Regions from separate parts of the Homo sapiens genome. Here all the other regions are reported to be linked to region 1. The links are microRNA targets in miRTarBase. Many come from high-throughput screens and were not tested one by one. Region 1 holds a microRNA gene; each other region holds the end of a gene's coding sequence.

Region 1 (3,111 bases):
TCTTAATCAAGGAATCCTGACTTAACCTTATTCTTTCTCACAGACACAGTTCAATGCTGCAATGGAGCCTGTGGTGAGCACTGATTCAATAGGTGGTTTGCCTCCTTAGACGCAGAATCACAGGACTAGAAGGAGTGAAAACAACACTTTATCTCTACATTGGCTTCAGGGAGGACAGTGCCCAAACCACCTCAAGTACAGAATAATTTACTCTCATTTAGAAGATCTCCAGACAGAGCTCGAATGGCTCCCTTGGCAACAAATTTTAGTTTTAACAATCTTTGTAGCTTTATCCTTCCCTCCAGATAATGCCATAACTGTGTACTCTAGATTAAACGTTTTCTCCTTTTCTGCCCACAGTGCTTTTGAAGCCAAACATGATTTCACATATAGTGTTGGGTCATCATTAAGTCACCTTTCAGAAGTCCCTCTAAATTAAGGAGTCCTCATCCTTTCCTTAAATTTTTCATGTGTCCTGACCTATGAGAATCTGTTATACGCATGTTTAATTTCTATGGAATACCTCATCATACAACTTGAAATTCTGATTGACTAGTGGTTTTTTTCCTGCATAAGTGCTACTTCATCTATGCCTCAGTAACAAACAACAACAATCACTTAATGGAAATGGTGGCAGGCAGAATTCTAAGATAGCTGCCAGATTCCTGCCGCCCCTGGTGTGCATTCCTTGATAATCACTCTCCTTTGAGTGCAGGCAGACCTGTGTGTATGATACCACTGCTATGATTACATTGCTCATCAGGCGACTGTGAGCTAGCCAAAATGGAGAATATTCTGGTGGGTCTGACCTAGCCAGGTGAGCCCGTTTCTGAGTCATAGAGATTGAAAGTGTGAGAGGGATTTGATGTGAGGGGGAATTCTCTGTTGCTGGTTTTGAGTATAAAAGGGGCCATATAATAAAGACTTGAGAGTGGTCACTAGTTGCTGAGATCCATCCCTAATTGAAGCTAGCAAGAAACACTTCTACCAACAACTTGAAGGAATTTGGAAAAGAATCCTTCCCTAGTCAAGTCTCTAGAGGGGAATGCAGCTAACTGACACCTTGATTTCAGCCTCGTGAGACCCTGAACAGAGATATCAACCACTCAGTTGCCTGGACCTCTGACAGAAATGAAAGATAATAAATGTCTGTTGTTTTAAGCCACTAAGTTTATGGAAATTTGTTACACAGCAATGGAAAACCAATATAGGCCCCTATCCATGAGTTACATTGTAGTAAACACCTTTCCTACATTATAGATATCTCATCTAACTCCTACAGCAACCCTTGAGGTAATCACTGTGTCCATTGTCAGAGCAAGAAAACTGAAGCTCGGCTTCATAAACAGAAGCAGCAAGGATTGATTCCTTAAATACTGTGAATTCCACTCTCACTTTATTTGAATTTGTGACAGTGAAATTCACAGTATTCTTTAAACATTTTACCCCCAAGCGATGCTCTTTCCTCTGAATTGCTTTGCCTGTCCTAATAATTTTATTTATACAGGCTGATGCTGGTGACTTGGGAATAGTATTTTTATCCAAACCATTTGGCTTCTTATAGGTATGAGCCACTGAGGGAGCTATTTTTTATTTAATTGTGCTTTGGAAAAATCAAACGTAGCCTTGAGTTTTAAAATTATTAAGCTTACACTTTTTCACAAAATAGAAATGGAGTAATATAGCTCTGTCCTTCCGTTTTTTAAAGCCAAAAAATGTAAGAATGGAATGTACTGGCTCACTGCTCCCACGGTGTCCTTACCAGCACAACTTACCCCATCCCTCCCTAGCCCACTCTTGAGGATACTTTCTTGCCACTGTCAGGCTTACTCCTGCCTCCTAGACTGAGGAAAGAAAAGCCTCCTGGTTTGGAGCTCATAATCAAGTCAGCCTTGCTGCAGGGCTCATTTTAAGCCAGTATCCTGGACCAGGTGAGTCTTTTTATTCATCTCTGCTTTGTATCCAAGTTCCATTTATCAGGTTACTAACTGGCCCCATCATGCATTCCTTCAGTAATTACTTTATTTTTAGCACTGCCAAGAAAGCAAGTCTTTTCCTACAAAAACACAGGATTTCCAGTGGGGTTAAATAAATGTGCCTATGTTCTCACTTGAGACAGCAAAAAGGGAAGGAGCGAAAATTGTGGAAAGAATTGAAGACAGAGGGTAGAGGGTAGGGTGCCAAGTGTGGGGGAAAACTGAATTATGAATATTAAGGAAAAATGAAAAATAATATTAAACTGAAATGGAGAGAAATAATATAAGTGAGAATAGAAAAACATAAAACAACCTTCCCCAAAACAAAGGATAAAGAAAAAAGAATTCAGGGGAAGCTGTAAATATCTAAGACATAGCAGCAAGGGCCTGGGAATACTTATAGTGTTTGAAGTTCTGAGCTTTATTTCGCTGCAGTGAGGATCTTAAAGATGCTTAAACATATGAATAAGCAACAAAGTAATGTGACCGTTCAGCTACAGGAAAGGGGTCCCAATCCAGGATCCAGACCCCAAGAGAAGGTTCTTGGATCTCTCACAAGAAAGAGTTCAGGGCGAGTCCATAGAGTAAAGTGAAAGCAAGTTTCTTAAGAAAGTAAAGAAATAAAAGAATGGCTACTCCATAGACTGCATCCACGACGGCTGCTGGTTGCCCATTTTTATGGTTATTTCTTGATGATATGCTAAACAAGGGATGGATTATTGATGCCCTCCCTTTTTAGGCCATATAGGGTAACTTGCCATGGCATTTGTAAACTGTCATGACGCTGGTGGGAGTGTAGCAGTGAGGACGACCAGAGGACACTTTCATTGCCATCTTGGTTTTGGTGGGTTTTAGCCATCTCCTTTACTGCAATCTGTTTTATCAGCAAGGTCTTTATGACCTTTATCTTGTGCCGACCTCCTATCTCATCCTGTGACTTAGAATGCCTTAACCATCTGGGAATGCAACCCAGTAGGTTTCAACCATATTTAACCAGCTTCTATTCAAGATGGAGTTGCTCTGGTTCAAACGCCTCTGACAGTTTTCAGAGATTATTGTCAATTCAGGAGTCAAATCATTAGAGACTTTACAAAAAATCAGATGAGGGTAATAAAACTTATGATAATATAATATT
Region 2 (3,111 bases), not on the chromosome of region 1:
AAGGAGGTGAGAGGAGAGAGCCAAAAAATAGGCTTGGTGAGAAGGAAGGAGACACTGAGGCAGCAGCTGGACAGAAAAACATCAGAAGAACCTTGGTCAGGCATGGCCATTTTCATGCCTCCTCCTTCCCTCTCTTCCTCCTCTCCACCATGCATCCGATTTCAGTATCTTCGGCCCCTAAGGTCCAAATTCCAGATCCAGCATTTACTGGTTGAGTAGCCTTGGGAAAATCATAAGGAGCCCCTTCAGGCTGAGCTCCTGTCACGACATGAGATGAACGCCATAGCAAAATGGGGTTCTTCAATTATTTTTGAGATGGGGTCTTGCTGTGTCGCCCAGGCTGGAGTGCAGAGGCACAAGTCCTGGTTCACTGAAGCCTCGACTGCTGGGGCTCAAGTGATCCTCCCGCCTCAGCCTCCATAGTGGCTGGGACTACAGGTGCAAACCACCATACCCCGCTATTTTATTTTTTGTTTGAGACAGGGCCTCACTCTGTCTCCCAGGCTAGAGTGCAGTGGCACCATCACTGCTCACTGCAGCCTCAACATCCCTGGGCTTAAGGGATCCTCTGTCTTCAGCCTCCCGAGTAGCTGGGACTGCAGGTATACACCACCACGCCTGGCTAATTTTTCTATCTTTTGTAGACAATGTCTTGCTATGTTGCCCAGACTGGTCTCCAGCCCATTGCATGCCCCCTGTGGTGGTGGTGACCCATTAGAAAAACAAATAAAATAGGATTCAATTGATGCCAACTTAAACACACCTGAGGAGGGGTGGAAAGCTGTCACCGTACAGGAAATCTTTGTCCTTCACATCTGTCTCTGGTTGCACGTGTAACAGCTTCCCCCACCTAGTGGCAAGGAAAGTGGTGGATTCCAACTGTGGAGGAAGGGTCGCCGGCATGCAGAGGGAGGGGTGCAGGGGGAGGGGTGCAGAGGGAGGGGCACAGAGGGAGGGGTGGAGGGGCGCAGAGGGAGGGGCGCAGAGGGAGGGGTGGAGGGGCGCAGAGGGAGGGGCACAGAGGGAGCGGTGCAGAGGGAGGGGTGCAGAGGGAGGGGCGCAGAGGGGGGGTGGAGGGGCGCAGGGGGGTGGAGGGGCGCAGGGGGGTGGAGGGGCGCAGGGGTAGGGGTGCAGAGGGAGGGGCACAGGGAGGGGCGCAGAGGGAGGGGTGGAGGGGCGCAGAGGGAGGGGTGCAGGGGCACAGAGGAAGGGGAGCAGAGGGAGGGGTGCATAAGGAGGGGCGCAGGGAGCCCCAAGTCCCCAGGGGCCCACCCGATGCTAACAATGTGCAGTGAGGAAAGCCAGAACGCACTTCGGTTCCATTCCATTTTATTACAGTCCTGTCCTTGAGTTCCAGAATGAATGGCTATTTAATACACAACCCCAAACACTCCTAAAATGGATCTTGTTAACATTCAAAAGTCTCCCATTTCTTTCTCAGTATATTAAATCAAAAGGAAAAAAAAATCTTAAAAAAAAAAAATCAATAGGTTTAGTTCACCCCAGGAAAAGCACCTTTACAACAGGAAACTAAATTGTCAGGAATCTGACCAAAGACACAAAGCAGCAGATAAGATTCCCGACAGAAGAGAGTGACTCCCACTGGAACATAAATAGATCCCCCCAAAGTATACATATTTCACATGAGTGTGTACATATACATGTCATATATTAAAAAAAATTGGTTTCTATACCCAAAAAGTTATTCAGAAATAAATCAACACCCCGAGACCGGGGATGTCGGGTGCCGCAGCCAGGTTACACATCGAGCTTGCACCTCGCTCTGTGCGGATGACCCCTCGGTGCACTGTGCACACTGGCCTGGAGGGGGCTGGATGGGGGCCTCTTTCCTGCCCCCCAATCCCCAGGCCTGGCAGATCCAGTGTTTGCAGAAAAGTGAGCCAGGGAAATCTAGGAAGGCAGGTGCCTGTGTGGTCCCCAAACCCCCTGGTGCAGAGCTCAGGAGCCAGCTGGAGGCTGGGGGCAAATGGCCAAGGCCACCGCCAGCTGCCCTGCAGGCTGCCCTGGGTCCTGGGGTAAAGGGAAGTGCTTGGGACCCCAGGAATGGAACAGCAGCACTCTCACTTTTTAACAGCAGGCCTGACTCTGGGGTCTGCCAGGCCCTGGAGACCTTTGTAGTATCGCCAGTCTGGGCTTCTCCTGGGATCCAGTGGCCTTGGGAGAGGGAGTGGGCTTTCTGACCCGCCAGGCCTGAGCCTCGTAAGCCTGTTGTGTGAGTGTGTGTGTGCTTAACGGAGCTCAACACATTGCAAATGAGTGTTCTACTGGGACATACTGGAGTAGTGTCTGCTTTGGGGGAAGTCAGTTTGTCATTGCATCCTAATTGGTCCCCATGCTGACGTGGATTATTTGTTCCAAAGATATCAGCTGCTGGAAGCGGCAGACACAGAAAACACGTTACACACCTGGAAGCGTAATCCTCTTGGGGCTTGGCACAGTGTTTCCATTCACAGAACAAACAGCAGAAATGCGTGGGAACCCCTTTCCTCATTCCAAACCCTCTCCTGGCACCGCAGGCAAGCAAGAGAAAAGGCCGTGAGAGTCGGAAGGCGCGTCAGTAGTTTTCAGGTTTGCGAGCTCAACCACGAGACAGTCACACACAGCCGTACTCATACCACACGGTCTGCGGATCCCCGCCGGGCTCCGGGGAGGCCGGACTGCTCTTTGAGACGCTCCCTCGACTGCAGTCCTCCAGGGCCCGGCCGAGGTGGGGAGCCAAATCGGGAGACCGACCTGGGCTCTTGGCCGGAAGCCCCTCACTGCAGCCCTGCCCCGGGACCCCGTCTCCCTCTGAGAGGCTGAGCCCTGCCCGGACAGGGGTGATGGTGGCCACCTCCCCTGAGCGTGGGGGCGCCTTGGGCTTGGTCCTGGCAGCCGGGGCTGCAGCAGGTGAGAAGTGCAGGAGCTGGGAGTTGCTGCCACTGCCAGCAGCAGCAGCACCAGCACCTGCAGTGGCAATGGCGGGGGCTGTGGCAGACTGATGCAGGGGGGCCAGCCTCTCCTCCTTTGGGGGAGCCAGGGAGAAGCGCCTCGTGTCCAGCGGCCGGCTGCGGGGACCTGGGCCCTGACAGGAGCTGCCAGCCTTTCCCA
Region 3 (3,000 bases), not on the chromosome of region 1:
TCCAGAGTTGTATGTTGCAGCTTTTAGGCACCAAGGAGCAGTCTCCCTACAGCCTGGAGAGGAGTCTGGCCACAGGGCAGGGCTGTTTGACAGACACCATGGAGCACAGGCAGCCCTCATTTCCGGCCAGAACATGTTGAACGCACCAGTCATCCTAAATAGCCTTTTCTGTCTTCACACAGCCAAGAAGAAAGAAGAGGAGGACGACGACATGAAGGAATTGGAGAACTGGGCTGGATCCATGTAATGGGGTCCAGCGCTGGCTGGGCCCAGACAGACTGTGGTGGCCTGCGCAGCGAGCAGGCGTGTGCGTGTGTGGGGCAGGCAGGATGTGGTGCAGGCAGGTTCCATCGCTTTCGACTCTCACTCCAAAGCAGTAGGGCCGCGTTGCTGCTCACTCTCTGCATAGCATGGTCTGCACCTGGGAGATGGGCGGGGGGAGGGGGGCGGGCGGGGTGGGAAGTGCCTGCTGTTTATAATGTTGAATTTCTGTAAAATAAACTGTATTTGCAAATCCAACATTGAGCTTCTGGACTACGCTGACTCCACTGCTGAATCCTCAATGGAAAGGGTCGACTGGTTGCAGTTGAAATGACCTGAAATGTAGCCTCTGTCCTTGTAAGTCAGTTGACTTGCCGCACATCTCTTTGTGTACTTGTACGGTACTGGCAGAAAAGTCATTTTTCAAAAGCCATAGGCTTTTCCTTGCCCTTAGCTGTAATAATGCATCTGATTTTGATTTCCTCCAGAGCTGTGTTTCTGTCCATCACCTGTGTATTGGCCCTGTGTTTACCACTCTGGCCCACTCCTCACCCCCTTGCTCCCCTGGTCTTCTGGAGTTTGTGACATTGATTTGAAATGGATGGTGTTCTCTTGAGAGCAAGTGAGATTGTTAGAATTAAGTTCCAACTATACAGTTTTCTAACATAGCTATAAGGTCCTTGTTGCTGTTTGTGATAACTGATAGATAACTCATTGGAAACGTGCATACATTTATATTCAGATGAAATTATGGTTTGCACTGTCTATTAAATATCTCGATTAATTTTCATACTTTGCTGTTGTGTTTAATCTATCATTTGCCTCGGGAGCTGACCCTTTCCAGACCAGCAAGGTGTACAGTGGAGTCTGGAAACATGGAAGACTTAACCATGACATGTGTCAACAGTTTGAACCAAAGAGCAGAGCTTGTCTCACCAGAAGTCTGTTCAAGTCCTAGATTGGCCCTCACCTTGCCTGGGGACTCTCTGGGTACAGTTCAGGGTGAGTTGGTTCTTGGGTACTTCAGGGTCTTCCCTATTTCTTCTCTGCCAGTGTCCATGGGCAGTGCCAGCAGGAGCCTTACTGTTGGAAGCCATGGTGCTCCCATCAGACAAGGCTCATCAGGAACATTGAAGAAATGGCCTTTCCCATGGGGAGGAAGTGTAGGGCACTGACTGAGAATCTAGGACACAGAGGTCACCTCAGGACTGCTGAGACTCAACATATGACTCTGGCCCAGCCCCTTCCACTCTGTCCCCTTTTCTTTGGTCTTGTATCCCCTTGAGAGTGTGATGCATGCTGTGGACCCTCTTCAGAAAGGTGGATCTCTACATATTTATCCTTAATTTTGCATGCAAATTTGCAGTATTGAGAGGACACCCCTGTCCCCCTGTGCTCACTCCCAAACCTTTTAAAGTAAAACCAACCTGAGTTCAAAATGAGACACCATCATTGCTCACTGGGCGCCCTGGGGCAAGTTGCCTACCCTCCCTGGGGCTCCTGTTCTCACCTGGAAAGCAAGGGGATGGGAACAGATCAGTCCTGAGGTCCTGTCTGTGTTGAGCGGCTCATGCCCTGTCCCTCATCCCTCATTGCGGCATCCCAGGGCTGCCACACTTAGAACTGGGAGGGACTTGAAGACAGTGGCTTAAAAATTCCTGACTTGTGTGGAGGTTGGATCTGGCTAGTCTCAGAAGTTCTTTCACCTCAAGACAAATCTAGTGGCAGTGCTTGCTGCCAGCTTCCACCCGCTCAGCCTGCAGCTGGTGTGGCCTCTGGGTATCGCTGGTGTGGGAGACCTAGTGGACTTTCTTTTTTTTTTTTGGAGATGGAGTCTTGCTCTGTCGCCCAGGCTGGAGTGCAGTGGCGCGATCTCGGCTCACTGAAAGCTCTCCTCCCGGATTCACGCCATTCTTCTGCCTCAGCCTCCTGAGTAGCTGGGACAACAGGCGCCCACCACCATGCCTGGCTAATTTTTTCTATTTTTAATAGAGATAGGGTTTCACTATGTTAGTCAGGATGGTCTCGATCTCCTGACCTCATGATCCGCCCACCTCGGCCTCCCAAAGTGCTGGGATTACAGGCGTGAGCCACCGCGCCCGGCCCCCAGTGGACTTTCTTAAGCTCCTCTCATCAGCTGTTACAGGGCGTCTTGCCCTAGGTCTGTGTGAGGGGAACTTGCAGACTCAACCCTCCAGCTCTGGTGAACCCAGAAGCCAGGTCCAGGGCAGGGTCTGTGACTCCTCTGAGCAAGAGCTGCTTATTTCTACCGAGTGTGGGTCTTGTGCCAGGGCCTGTGGAGTACAGTGTTCAGTAATACCCAGCCCCTCTCCTGTTCTCAGGAGGTTCTTGGGGCCAGAGAGAGAAGTTACTGAGTCAGGATTCCTTGGCTACAAGCAACAGAAGCCTCAACCCACTGGTATAAGCAATGGAGACATTTACTTATTTATGAAAACTTAGTCAACAGATATTTATTGAGCACCTACTGTGTGCTAAGTACTGTTCAAGGTGCCAGGAGTACAGGTATCAGAGTCCCTGCCCTCAAGGTGGTTACAGTCTAACAATCTCAGGACAAGAAATCTTGGTGGTGGGGCGAGGGGGTGGTTCTGGATTTGGGGTAGTGGCTGAACCATGTCCTCAAGAACCAGGTTCTTTGCATCCTTCTGCTCTGGCACCCTGCACACATAGAGGCTTTTTCTTTTCTTTTTTTTTTTTTTGAGACAGGGTCTCACTTTGTCA
Region 4 (3,111 bases), not on the chromosome of region 1:
GACCACAGGTGTGTGCCACCATGCCTGGCTAATTTTTCTGTATATTCTGTAGAGACAGAGTTTCTCTACATTGCCCAGCCTAGTCTCTAACTCCTGAGCTCAAATGATCCTCCCGCCTTGGCCTCCCAAAGTGTTGGAAATACAGGCATGAGCTGTCCCTGCATCGGGTGAACATTTTTCAACCCTTGACCCATGAAAATAAGCAGAGGCAGGAATGTAACATAACAGCATAGTCCATACCTCCGCATCTGGCGTCTTCTGTCCTTCAGTCCTCCAGTCATCAGATCAAAGCACACTTGGAAAATTTTAAGTCAGAAGTGGAGCAGATGGGAGACCACTGTCTGAATCTCGTTTGCCATCAATATAGGTATTGATAATCCTTTACTAGCATATATGCTAGGAACGGGGTCCTGCTAATCCCTCTTGTGAACAATACGCTTATTTCTCAACCTCCAGCCTCTGCCCCTTTCCTGGCCTTTGCTGGGGGACCAACTCATTCAGACTGAGTTGTGACATGGCTAGATTCCTGTTCCAAGTGACCCCGGCATTTACAAGTCAGCTTAGTACTTGAGTTAGGAGACACAGGTGAGAACTATTAGGAAGAAGGCTTCCCAGTCTCTGCATAGTGACATATGTGAGGTAAAATTTGTGTGGCATTCTCGTGGGGGTAGAGATGAGGCTGCTCTTAGTGCCCCCTTCTTCATGACAGCGTGGGAATATTCTGTCCTAGAGAGTTCCTGGCTGGGGAACTGACTGTGCAAACCATCTCTTAACTGCTCCAGTAATAAATAGCCTGCCAGGTCCTAAGCTGCCTGTGTCTTCTCTCTTGTGGAGTAAACCAGGCAAGCCCTAAGAACTTTGCTAAGATTTTAAGAAACTGAAGAGACCATCAGGATTTGGGATCTGCCATATCTGATATGATAGGCCTGTGTATTATGATTCTCCAGAGAAACAGAACCAATACACACAAAGAGATTTCTTATAAGGAATTGGCTCATGTGATTATGGAGGCTGACAAGTCCCAAGATCTGTAGTTGGCAAGCTGGAGAACCAGGAAAGCAGATGGTATTGTTGCACACCGGAGGCTTGTAGCCTTGAGACCTAAGGAGAGTGGATGTTTCAGTTTAAGTCCGAAAGCAGGAAAAGACCAATGTCCCACCTCAAGGCAGTCAGGCAGGAGGACTTCCCTTTTATTTGGAAGAGGGTCAGCCCTTTTTAGCCCTTTTTTTCTGTACAGGCCTTCACCTGGTTGAATGAGGCCACCCATGTTAGGGAAGACAGTCGGCTTTACTCAGTCTACTGATTCAAATGTTATCCTCATTCAGAAACACCCTCACAGACACACCCGGAATGTTTGACCAAATGCCTGGGCACCCCATGGCCCAATCAAGTTGACACCTAACATTAGCCATCACAGCCAGGAAGAAAATATAGGTTGAGTATCCCTTATCTGAAAGGTGTGAGACCAGAAGTGTTTCAGATTTTGGATTTTGGAATATTTGCATTATACTGACAAGTTGAGCATCTCTAATCTGAAAATCAGAAATCTAAAATGATCCAATGAGTATTTCCTTTGGGCATCATGTTGGCATTCAAAAAGTTTCAGATTTTGGATTTCCAATTTTCAAATTAGGGATGTTCAACCTGTAATATGGCCCCAGACTGCCTTTCTAGACATAGGTTCCACAATGCATATAATACCTGTGCCCTTCACACCCTTATCTGTGTTCATGGTGTTCTCTCAGCCATCTCTGCCTCCCAAGAATCCTACCCAGGTCTTCAAGGCATAACTCAAAGCCTCCAGATTTGCCCTTTTCACCATTAATCACTTGCGTTCCCTTTAGCTCATTTCTTATCCTGCCACCTAGCATTAATTCACTCTAGTAATAGTTAATTAGTACTAGTTAATTGGTAATTGGTAATAGTTAATTGTGTTCCTGTTTGATGATAATCAAATGGTATCCCCTAGATGATAATGAATCTGAAGGCAAGGTGGTCTGGTCCCTGTCATTTTCCAGTACCTTGAACAGAGGAAGTGCCTAGCACAGAGGAAGTGCTTTCATTTAAATGCCTATTGACTCCAATTTGGATTGACCTGTGGAAAAGAAGTTTCTAGAGCCTGAGACCAAGTGATATAATAGTTTTATTTGAGACATAAAAACACATGTGTTTCTATTACATAGTGTGGGGTTTAGGGTCCTGGTTTCTAAGACAAGACTTTATTTCACCCTGTATCACAGCTTCCTGGGAAATGAATTAGGGAGCAAGAGACGGCCTGGCAAGAAAATCATTATTGTTGCTGGGAAGTTGCAAAGAAAGGGGAGAGTTTATTCAAATTAGTGTAACAGAGCCCCCAGGATGAAGAGAGTGGTGCAGGGAAAAGGTCTAAATTCCTGGTGTTGGTGGGGACACTGGCACATCCCACAGCAAGGACTCAGCCCTCAACGGCGGCGGCTGGGTCTTGGGAGGGGAGTGGTGGGAGGGTAAGGGCTCCTCAGCTCCCTCCCTGGACTCCCAGTTCAGTCACCCCTTCCCCCGGAAGAATTCAAAGAGGAAGGGCAGGGTCTATGTCATGGACACTGCTACTTGTTCGATGAAGCTGGCCAGGTTTATGTCCCGTTCTGAAAGGCCGGCACACTCATGGGTGCTCAGCGTGATGTGGACCTGAAATGAAACCAGAAATTCTGCTTCCACTGACTTCACTTAAGAACAGGAGGGAGTCACTAGCTGCTGGGCTCAGCCCTGCTAGGAGCTCCAGAATAGCAGCTGGCCAGTACGATCTCTCCTGGGGACTCCTTCCTGACATGTCTGTAACAACATCTTCTACATCTCCCCTTTGCTGTCTCTCAAAAATAATCATGACTTCAGCTATAGAATAAAAGCTTAATATCTGAATGTCAAGAGCAACCTAAAAGCTAAAGACAAAACCAAAAACCAATGCCAACTCCTAAACACTATCCATTCATAGACGACCTCTTCCACCCTTACTGTTTTTATAAACAGAGACCAGCAGAGCTTTTGGCACATGGTAGACATTTAATGACTGTTTCTATTCATTAAGCAAATAATTTGATAGGTTGGCTATGTGTCTGTATTTTTTTTTTTTTTTTT

The links. Region 1 holds the annotated microRNA hsa-miR-4693-3p (UGAGAGUGGAAUUCACAGUAUUU, at 1,372-1,394, opposite strand). A microRNA usually pairs through its seed, bases 2 to 8, with sites in the 3' UTR of a target mRNA and lowers its output. Matches are read on the target gene's strand: a 7mer-m8 pairs with bases 2 to 8, a 7mer-A1 pairs with bases 2 to 7 and ends in A, and an 8mer does both.
Region 2: miRTarBase lists CCDC88C as a target of hsa-miR-4693-3p. Seed matches in the 3' UTR shown: 7mer-A1 at 2,558-2,564 and 7mer-m8 at 1,589-1,595.
Region 3: miRTarBase lists CHMP4B as a target of hsa-miR-4693-3p. Seed matches in the 3' UTR shown: 7mer-A1 at 360-366 and 7mer-m8 at 396-402.
Region 4: miRTarBase lists PCBD1 as a target of hsa-miR-4693-3p. Seed matches in the 3' UTR shown: 7mer-m8 at 2,364-2,370.

What each region holds. Positions count from the first base shown.
Region 1 is chr11:103,848,234-103,851,344 of GRCh38, reverse strand. It overlaps MIR4693 (microRNA 4693), which reads right to left and starts at 1,439; the gene lies at 1,365-1,439. LOC102723862 (a long non-coding RNA gene) reads left to right here and starts at 1,794. Exons shown (of 4, transcript XR_001748346.2): 1 at 1,794-1,931.
Region 2 is chr14:91,270,011-91,273,121 of GRCh38, forward strand. CCDC88C (coiled-coil domain containing 88C) reads right to left here. Exons shown (of 30, transcript NM_001080414.4): 30 at 1,313-3,111. The coding sequence ends at 2,615. It also overlaps a transcript of GPR68 not described here. Among named protein-coding and RNA genes, the nearest start is that of GPR68, 27 kb to the left of the region's middle.
Region 3 is chr20:33,853,314-33,856,313 of GRCh38, forward strand. CHMP4B (charged multivesicular body protein 4B) reads left to right here. Exons shown (of 5, transcript NM_176812.5): 5 at 183-1,053. The coding sequence ends at 247. Among named protein-coding and RNA genes, the nearest start is that of CHMP4B, 43 kb to the left of the region's middle. RefSeq lists an enhancer at 1-454.
Region 4 is chr10:70,881,385-70,884,495 of GRCh38, forward strand. PCBD1 (pterin-4 alpha-carbinolamine dehydratase 1) reads right to left here. Exons shown (of 4, transcript NM_000281.4): 4 at 2,126-2,664. The coding sequence ends at 2,566. Among named protein-coding and RNA genes, the nearest start is that of PCBD1, 5.6 kb to the right of the region's middle.